2 linked regions of the Homo sapiens genome follow. The protein of the gene in region 2 purifies or fractionates together with the protein of the main gene of each other region. This does not show direct contact. Each region holds a gene or a part of one and is shown on either strand. Other genes may lie near its edges.

The links.
Region 1: the proteins of NIBAN2 (region 2) and TSN fractionate together in Homo sapiens (co-fractionation; one large-scale study listed by BioGRID). This does not show direct contact.

Annotation. Positions count from the first base shown.
Region 1 is NC_000002.12:121,757,791-121,762,150, reverse strand, and holds part of TSN (translin), read right to left. Parts: intron 3,442-4,360; coding exon 3,345-3,441; intron 743-3,344; coding exon 627-742; intron 1-626. UniProt on the Homo sapiens protein: DNA-binding protein that specifically recognizes consensus sequences at the breakpoint junctions in chromosomal translocations, mostly involving immunoglobulin (Ig)/T-cell receptor gene segments.
Region 2 is NC_000009.12:127,507,459-127,510,073, reverse strand, and holds part of NIBAN2 (protein Niban 2), read left to right. Parts: intron 1-942; coding exon 943-1,098; intron 1,099-1,535; coding exon 1,536-1,652; intron 1,653-1,873; coding exon 1,874-1,981; intron 1,982-2,095; coding exon 2,096-2,207; intron 2,208-2,615. UniProt on the Homo sapiens protein: May play a role in apoptosis suppression. May promote melanoma cell invasion in vitro.

The DNA.
Region 1 (4,360 bases), on a different chromosome or scaffold from region 2:
TGTGGTGGTGCATGCCTGTAATTCCAGCTACTCAGGAGGCTGAGGTAGGAGAAATGCTTGAACCCAGGAGGTGGAGGTTGTGGTGAGCTGAGATTGCGTCATTGCACTACAGCCTGGGCAACAAGAGCAAAACTCCATTTCGGAAAAAAAAAAAAAATACAAAAAATTAGCTGGGCATAGTGGCAGGCACCTGTAATCCCAGCTACTCGGGAGGCTGAGGCAGGAGAATCACTTGAACCTGGGAGGTGGAGGTTGCAGTGAGCGGAGATTGCACCACTGCACTCCAGCCTGGGCGACAGAGACTCTGTCTCAAAAAAAAAAAAATATTTACATAGCACTTATACTGTATTAGATATTTTAAGAAATCTAGAGATGATTTAAAGTATGTGGGAGAATGTGTATAGGTTATATGCAAATACTACACCAGTTATATAAGGGACTTGAACATCCTCAGATTTGGGTATTGGAAGAGCTCTGGAAGCATCATCCTCAGATACCAAGCTACAACTATAAGTGGTTTTTAGTTAATTCTTGTTTGTTTTAATAAACAAAGTACAACCACCCTTTCCACCAAAAAGTAAGCAACCATGCCTGATTCTGCAGATCCCACTAATAAAGACACTTACTGCCAAGAATTTCTGTAACTGCTTCTCGAGTCACTAGTGTTTCTGTTTCCAAATACACAACAAATGCTGCCAAGAAGACCAAGCGCTGCAACACAAACCTCCAGTGCTCATGAAATCTGCATGAAAATAAGCACATTTAGCCTCCAAGGTTAGGGACCTTCAGAAAGATGGGTTTAATACAGCCATGTTCAAACGGTTTAGAAATGCGATCATTTTTCAAATAAAATCTTACACAAACCCCCAATATATAAAGAGAAATATGACATTTAGCATTAATTTTACAAGTTCGAATTTATAACAATTAAGTTTAATCAGTGACAAATATGGTCTAATTTTGATGAGTATGAAAATTTACGCCGGGTGCGATGGCTCACGCCTGTAATCCCAGCACTTTGAGAAGCAGAGGCAGGTTGATCAATCTGAGGTAAGGAGTTCAAGACCAGCCTGGCCAACATGGCAAAACCCCCTCTCTACTAAAAATACAAAAATTAGCCAGGCGTGGTGGCAGGCGCCCATAGTCCCAGCTACTCGGGAGGCTGAGGCAGGAGAACTGCTTGAACCTGGGAGGCAGAGGTTGCAGTGCGCAAGATCACACCACTGCACTCCACCCTGAACGACAGAGCGACACTCCGTCTCAAAAAAAAAAAAAAAAAGACAGAAAAAAGAAAACTGAAGATTACAGATGACAAGAGCAATTGTGCCTTCTAAATTTAATCAGTAAGAACAGTGATACTGCTCTGAAAAAAATAAAAATTTGTAACTGATGATTGAAGACAACTGCAGTTATGTATCATCCTCAACGTATTCCTCCATTTTGATTTGAGTGCAGAATACCAAGAAAATTCTGATTCACAAAATTACCATTTGCAATCACTAAACAAATGCACTTAAAATAGAATACTGAGCTAGAAGCCTGAAAAAAGGAAATTTTACAACCTGTGGATATTTATGCAATGCCTCCTGATTCTCAAATGTGGCAATACATTCAAAAAAAAGGTCTCAACATAATGCAGGTCACACAAACCCTTCTGAAGGCCAAATCCAGCCAGAGGGCAGCCTGTGTGTGACCTCCAGAGAAGATGGTCTCTAAAGACCCCACCTGTTCTACTGTCCTACCTCTCTCTGTGCTTCAGCTATTACAACAGCAGTCCCTGACCTTTTCAACACCAGGGACTGGTTTCATGGAAGACAATTTTTCCACAGAAGGGGGGCGGATGGTTTCAGGATGAAACTGTTCCACTTCAGATCATCAGGTATTAGATTCTCATAAGGAGCATGCAACCTAGATCCCTCGCATGCACAGTCCACAATAGGGTTCGCACTACTATGAGAATCGAATGCTGCCACCAATCTGACAGGAGGTGGAGCTCAGGCAGTACTGCAAGTGATGGGAAGCGGCTGTAAATACAGATGAAGCTTCACTCGCTCACCTACCGCTCACCTCCTTCTGTGCATCCCAGTTCCTAACAGGCCACAGACCAGTACCAGTCCATGGCCTGGGGGTTGGGAACCCCTGCCTTACAGCAAGGATCAGCAAATGTTTTCTGTAAAGGGCCAAGTAGTAAATATTTTAGGCTTTGTGGGACGCTTTCACTGTTACATATTCTTATCTGGGATTTTCTTTTTTTTAACAACTCTTGAAAAAACAAAAGCAATTCTTAGCTCCCAGAGGCAGCAGCCACTAGTGGTTTGTCAACCTCTCCCTTAAAAGAATATTCTCATAAGGTTATACTACCCACCCCCTGAAAATACTCATCCTATTTACTGCTGATATATACGTCTTAAAAGAACATCTTTTTCAGTAAGAAAATTAAAATAAGTAGAAACTTTTGATTCAGGTGCAGTTTTTCCCAGTTTAACACCTATGAAACCAGGAGACATTTCACAATCCATGTTTCACAAGTTGTTTTTTTTTTTTAGATGGAGTCTCACTCTGTTGCCCAGGCTGGAGTGCAATGGCACAATCTTGGCTCACTGCAACCTCCGCCTGCCTGGTTCAAGCGATTCTCCTGCCTCAGCCTCTGAAGTGGCTGGGGTTACAGGGATAAGCCACCACACCTGGCTAATTTTCGTATTTTTAGTAGAGACGGGGTTTCGCCATGCTAGCCAGGCTGTCTCAAACTCCTGACCTCAGGTGATCTGCCCACCTAGGCCTCCCAAAGTGCTAGGATTACAGGTGTGAGCCACCACGCCTGGCCCATGTTTCACATTTATGACTGGCAAAATTTTCCTTCCCTACTGGTACATAAAATAATGGTGTATCTTAAAATCAACAGTGTTGATTTTAATAAGAAAACATGGCATAAAATATTAGCTAATTACATCACTTGGCAGTGAAATTCAAGCTTCAAAGTAAAACTCGACTCCATATATATACTGCCACCTAATCTCATTATTTCACTAACTATAGTTCATCCAATTTCACAAGAAACTTGAATATAGCAAAAAGATATTCTCACTTTTGACCCTCATACCACATTTTCTTTTTAATTGCTTTTTCACTGCAAAAGTAATACATGTTCCTTAAGATTTAGACAGTAAAAAGAAGAAAAAAATAAAATCACCAATTTTTGTCATGACCATTATTAGTTCGGTTTTTTCTCTTTTTGTTACTTCTACACAGGATGTTTGCCTAGTTGTAAGCAATCATTTGGTACACATAATTTTTCTCCTTTTTTTTACTTAACATTATAAAATAATGCTATTTTTCTTACAAACCTGTAATACTGTTCAGCAGGAAATTTGGTCTTCAAAGATGTTAGATGTGTTTTTACTGTACCAAAATGTTCTCGAGCTTTCAAACACCTCTTTGGAACTAGTCACAAAAGATAACCAAATGAAAAACTTAACCAAATTTCAAATACAGTTCTTGCTTAATAATCTAAGTAATCTATCTGGAAATTAATCAACAAAAAAACCTCACAACTAACGTACACATCTGTGCTTTTCAACCTGGCTTTCAAAATATCATCCCCAGTTTCCCTACTAATTAGCTATACTGAAAAATAAACAACTTGCTAAAAGGGAATATATTAGGAGACACACTGGTAATTGGTTTGGTTGTCATAAATAACGTCATCCTTAAGGAGATGCACACCAGCTGCTATTCCTGTTCACTCCTCAGAGGATGCCTAAAATTGGATTGCTTCTTCCTCCCATATTTGGCAGAAAAAAGCCTTTACCAAGTATTCACAATCAGGATGACCAACTCCGTATCATTAAGAAAAATCACTTGCCTCTGGCACGTGTAAATGCATTATTATATCATTCTTGTATCTGAAAATATACTTCAGCTCCTTTAGCTGTGCTGGCAATACCTTACAATGAAGGTTCCATGTCTAAACTTGACATATTTTATTTTCATTCAAGAGGCTGATTATAAACACATTAATTTGAGAACATTTTATACTGTTAATCTCATATTAAAAGGTATTCAATCACTGAAAGGCTGGATTCAAATACACACAGGTGCATATACACACATACACACATACACACACACACACACAAAGGGCCAAATAAAAGTCACTAGATAACACAAAAGAGTTACAAACCCTTGGGCCAGGTGCAGTGGCTCACGCCTGTAATCCCAGCACTTTGAGAGGCCCAGCCAGGCGGATCATCTGAGGTCAGGAGTGCAAGACCAGCCTGGCCAACAAAGTGAAACCCCATCTCTAATAAAAATACCAAAAAAAAAAAAAGTAGCTGGGCGTGATGGCGGGCACCTGTAACAC
Region 2 (2,615 bases):
CGTGACTCCGGGCAGCCGTTCCCCTCCAAGGCCGTCCCTGTAGACGGGGAGGGGCTGCTGGGGACTAGGGGCAGAGGCTGTGAGGCCAGGGCTGTTGGAGTCCTCGTGGGGCCTGCAGTTTGAGGAAAGAGGGAACATTAGCTCCCGGCCACCAGCCTTTAGAAACCAAGAGTGGTGCTAAAATAGAAAAGAATTTAACAGAAGAGAGGGAAGGAGGGAAGGAGAGGAGGGGAGAGGGAAGGAGGGAAGGAGAGGAGGGAAGGAGGGAAGGAGAGGAGGGAAGGAGGGAAGGAGAGGAGGGGAGAGGGAAGGGCGGGCTTCAGGTGGAGTAATGAGATTGATAAGGAAGAATTCACAAGTCACGCGCCCTCCAAATGGAGACAGCCGTTGCCCTTACTTGACCTCAGTTATCTGGCTCTCGGGGTGAACGTCCTTCCACAGTCTCCATCTTGGGCTGGCTGCCCGGAGCCCGCATAGTTGTCAGATTGAATTTATCCTGTATCTTAGTTTCCTCCTTTATACTCTGAAATGGGGAGTCCACAGACCATAATAATCCCAGAATCTGAGACCTGGAGAGGACCTTGGAGAGCAGGAAAGCTCTCTCCCAATTTTGAAGCTGAGGAAACTGAGGCTCAGAGAGGGTGAATGACTTGCCCAAGGTCACCCAGCACCTCAGAAGGGATGAGTGCCTTCTGCCGGCACCGAGGCTGCCTCTCCACAGCGCTGTGCCACTGGACTGCGCCCTCCATGCCTTCAGAGCCTCATGCTTCTGTCCTGGGCCCTCCTGGGTTTACCTTTGTGGCCATGAGCACCAGGTGGCCATCCCTGGTAGCAGGCGCCAGCCCCAGGGCCTGGACTTCGAGGACCCAGGCAAAGTGTGTGGGGGGTGCTGCCTGGCCACAGGGCGGCCCTGCTCAGCCCCCGCGGCCCCGGCCCCTGCAGTACATGGAGAAGCTGTCCCGGCTGGCGTACCACCCCCTGAAGATGCAGAGCTGCTATGAGAAGATGGAGTCGCTGCGACTGGACGGGCTGCAGCAGCGATTTGATGTGTCCAGCACGTCCGTGTTCAAGCAGCGAGCCCAGATCCACATGCGGGAGGTAGACCCGAGGCTACGACCCCCACCCCACACCCTGTCCACTGCCTTCCACAGGCCCCCTCGCCCAGGGGGTCCCTTCTGCTCCGTCCCGTCATGCCATAGCCACGCTTGCCTGGCACGCTCTCTCCTCCTCTGCTTGGAACATCTGTGCCTCTGCCCACCTGGCTAATTCTGACTCACTTCCCAGGTCTCAGCTTAGAGACCCCTTCCTCCAGGAAGCTCTCCTTGCGCCCCCAGGCCCCTTCCCATATTTCCTGTTGCCTTGAGGCAGGGACTTGCTCCAGCGTGCAGAGCTGTGAGTGGGCATAGACCGCTTGCCATTCCTCCCTGGCAGGCCTCGGGGTGGGGGGCTGGTTGAGGATGAGGACCCCTCAGCGGCACCCAGGAAGGGGCTGTGGTCACCCTGGGGGCTTCACATGTCCGCGGTATGCCCTGCAGCAAATGGACAATGCCGTGTATACGTTCGAGACCCTCCTGCACCAGGAGCTGGGGAAGGGGCCCACCAAGGAGGAGCTGTGCAAGTCCATCCAGCGGGTCCTGGAGCGGGTGCTGAAGGTGAGCGGCCCCACGCCCTGCCCCGGACCGTCCTAGGCGAGGCCGAGCCCCGAGCCTCATCCCCGGCCACCACCAGGATTGCTGTCCCTGCAAGGAGGCGCCATGGTCCTCTTGTGCGGATGAGGACTCGGAGGCTTGGGTCAGACCACTGGCCTCGTCCTACCCTCAGGGCCAATGGAGCCCACTGACCTGCAGACCCCCGACCCCCTTGTTCCCTGCAGAAATACGACTACGACAGCAGCTCTGTGCGGAAGAGGTTCTTCCGGGAGGCGCTGCTGCAGATCAGCATCCCGTTCCTGCTCAAGAAGCTGGCCCCTACCTGCAAGTCGGTGAGCAGCCCCCACCTGCTCCAGCCGTTTGGGCCCTAAGTTGGGGGATGGAGCCCACAGGCCTCCCTCTACCCTTGGCCCTGACCTCTCATCTCTGCCGCCCCACCCGGGCAGGAGCTGCCCCGGTTCCAGGAGCTGATCTTCGAGGACTTTGCCAGGTTCATCCTGGTGGAAAACACGTACGAGGAGGTGGTGCTGCAGACCGTCATGAAGGACATCCTGCAGGGTGGGTGCCGTCCCGGGGTGGGGACTGTTGCCAGGAGGATGCTGGGGGCGCAGCTGAGAAGTGGTGGCAGCTGAGGGGGTCAGCTAAGGCTCAAAGAAAAGCCCAGACTTGCACCTGGGGTCTGGGTGAAGCCCACTCTTCGCTGTGTGGCCTCCGGAGCAGCCTTAGCCTTGCGTCTCTGTGCTTTAGTTTCTTCTCGCGTCCTTGGCTTTGCTGGGAGGGTCAGAGGAGTGATTAGATGACATGTGGTCAGCAGCCTGGGCCTGGAGATAGCATCACGGCCTTGCTGCTTTCAGCAACGAGGCCTGGAATGAGTCACATCCCAACCACAGACCCCCAAGGCGGGATGAGACGGGTCTTCTTTGAGCAGAGTCCAGCACAGGGGCGGCTGTGGGATCAGTGCTGTGT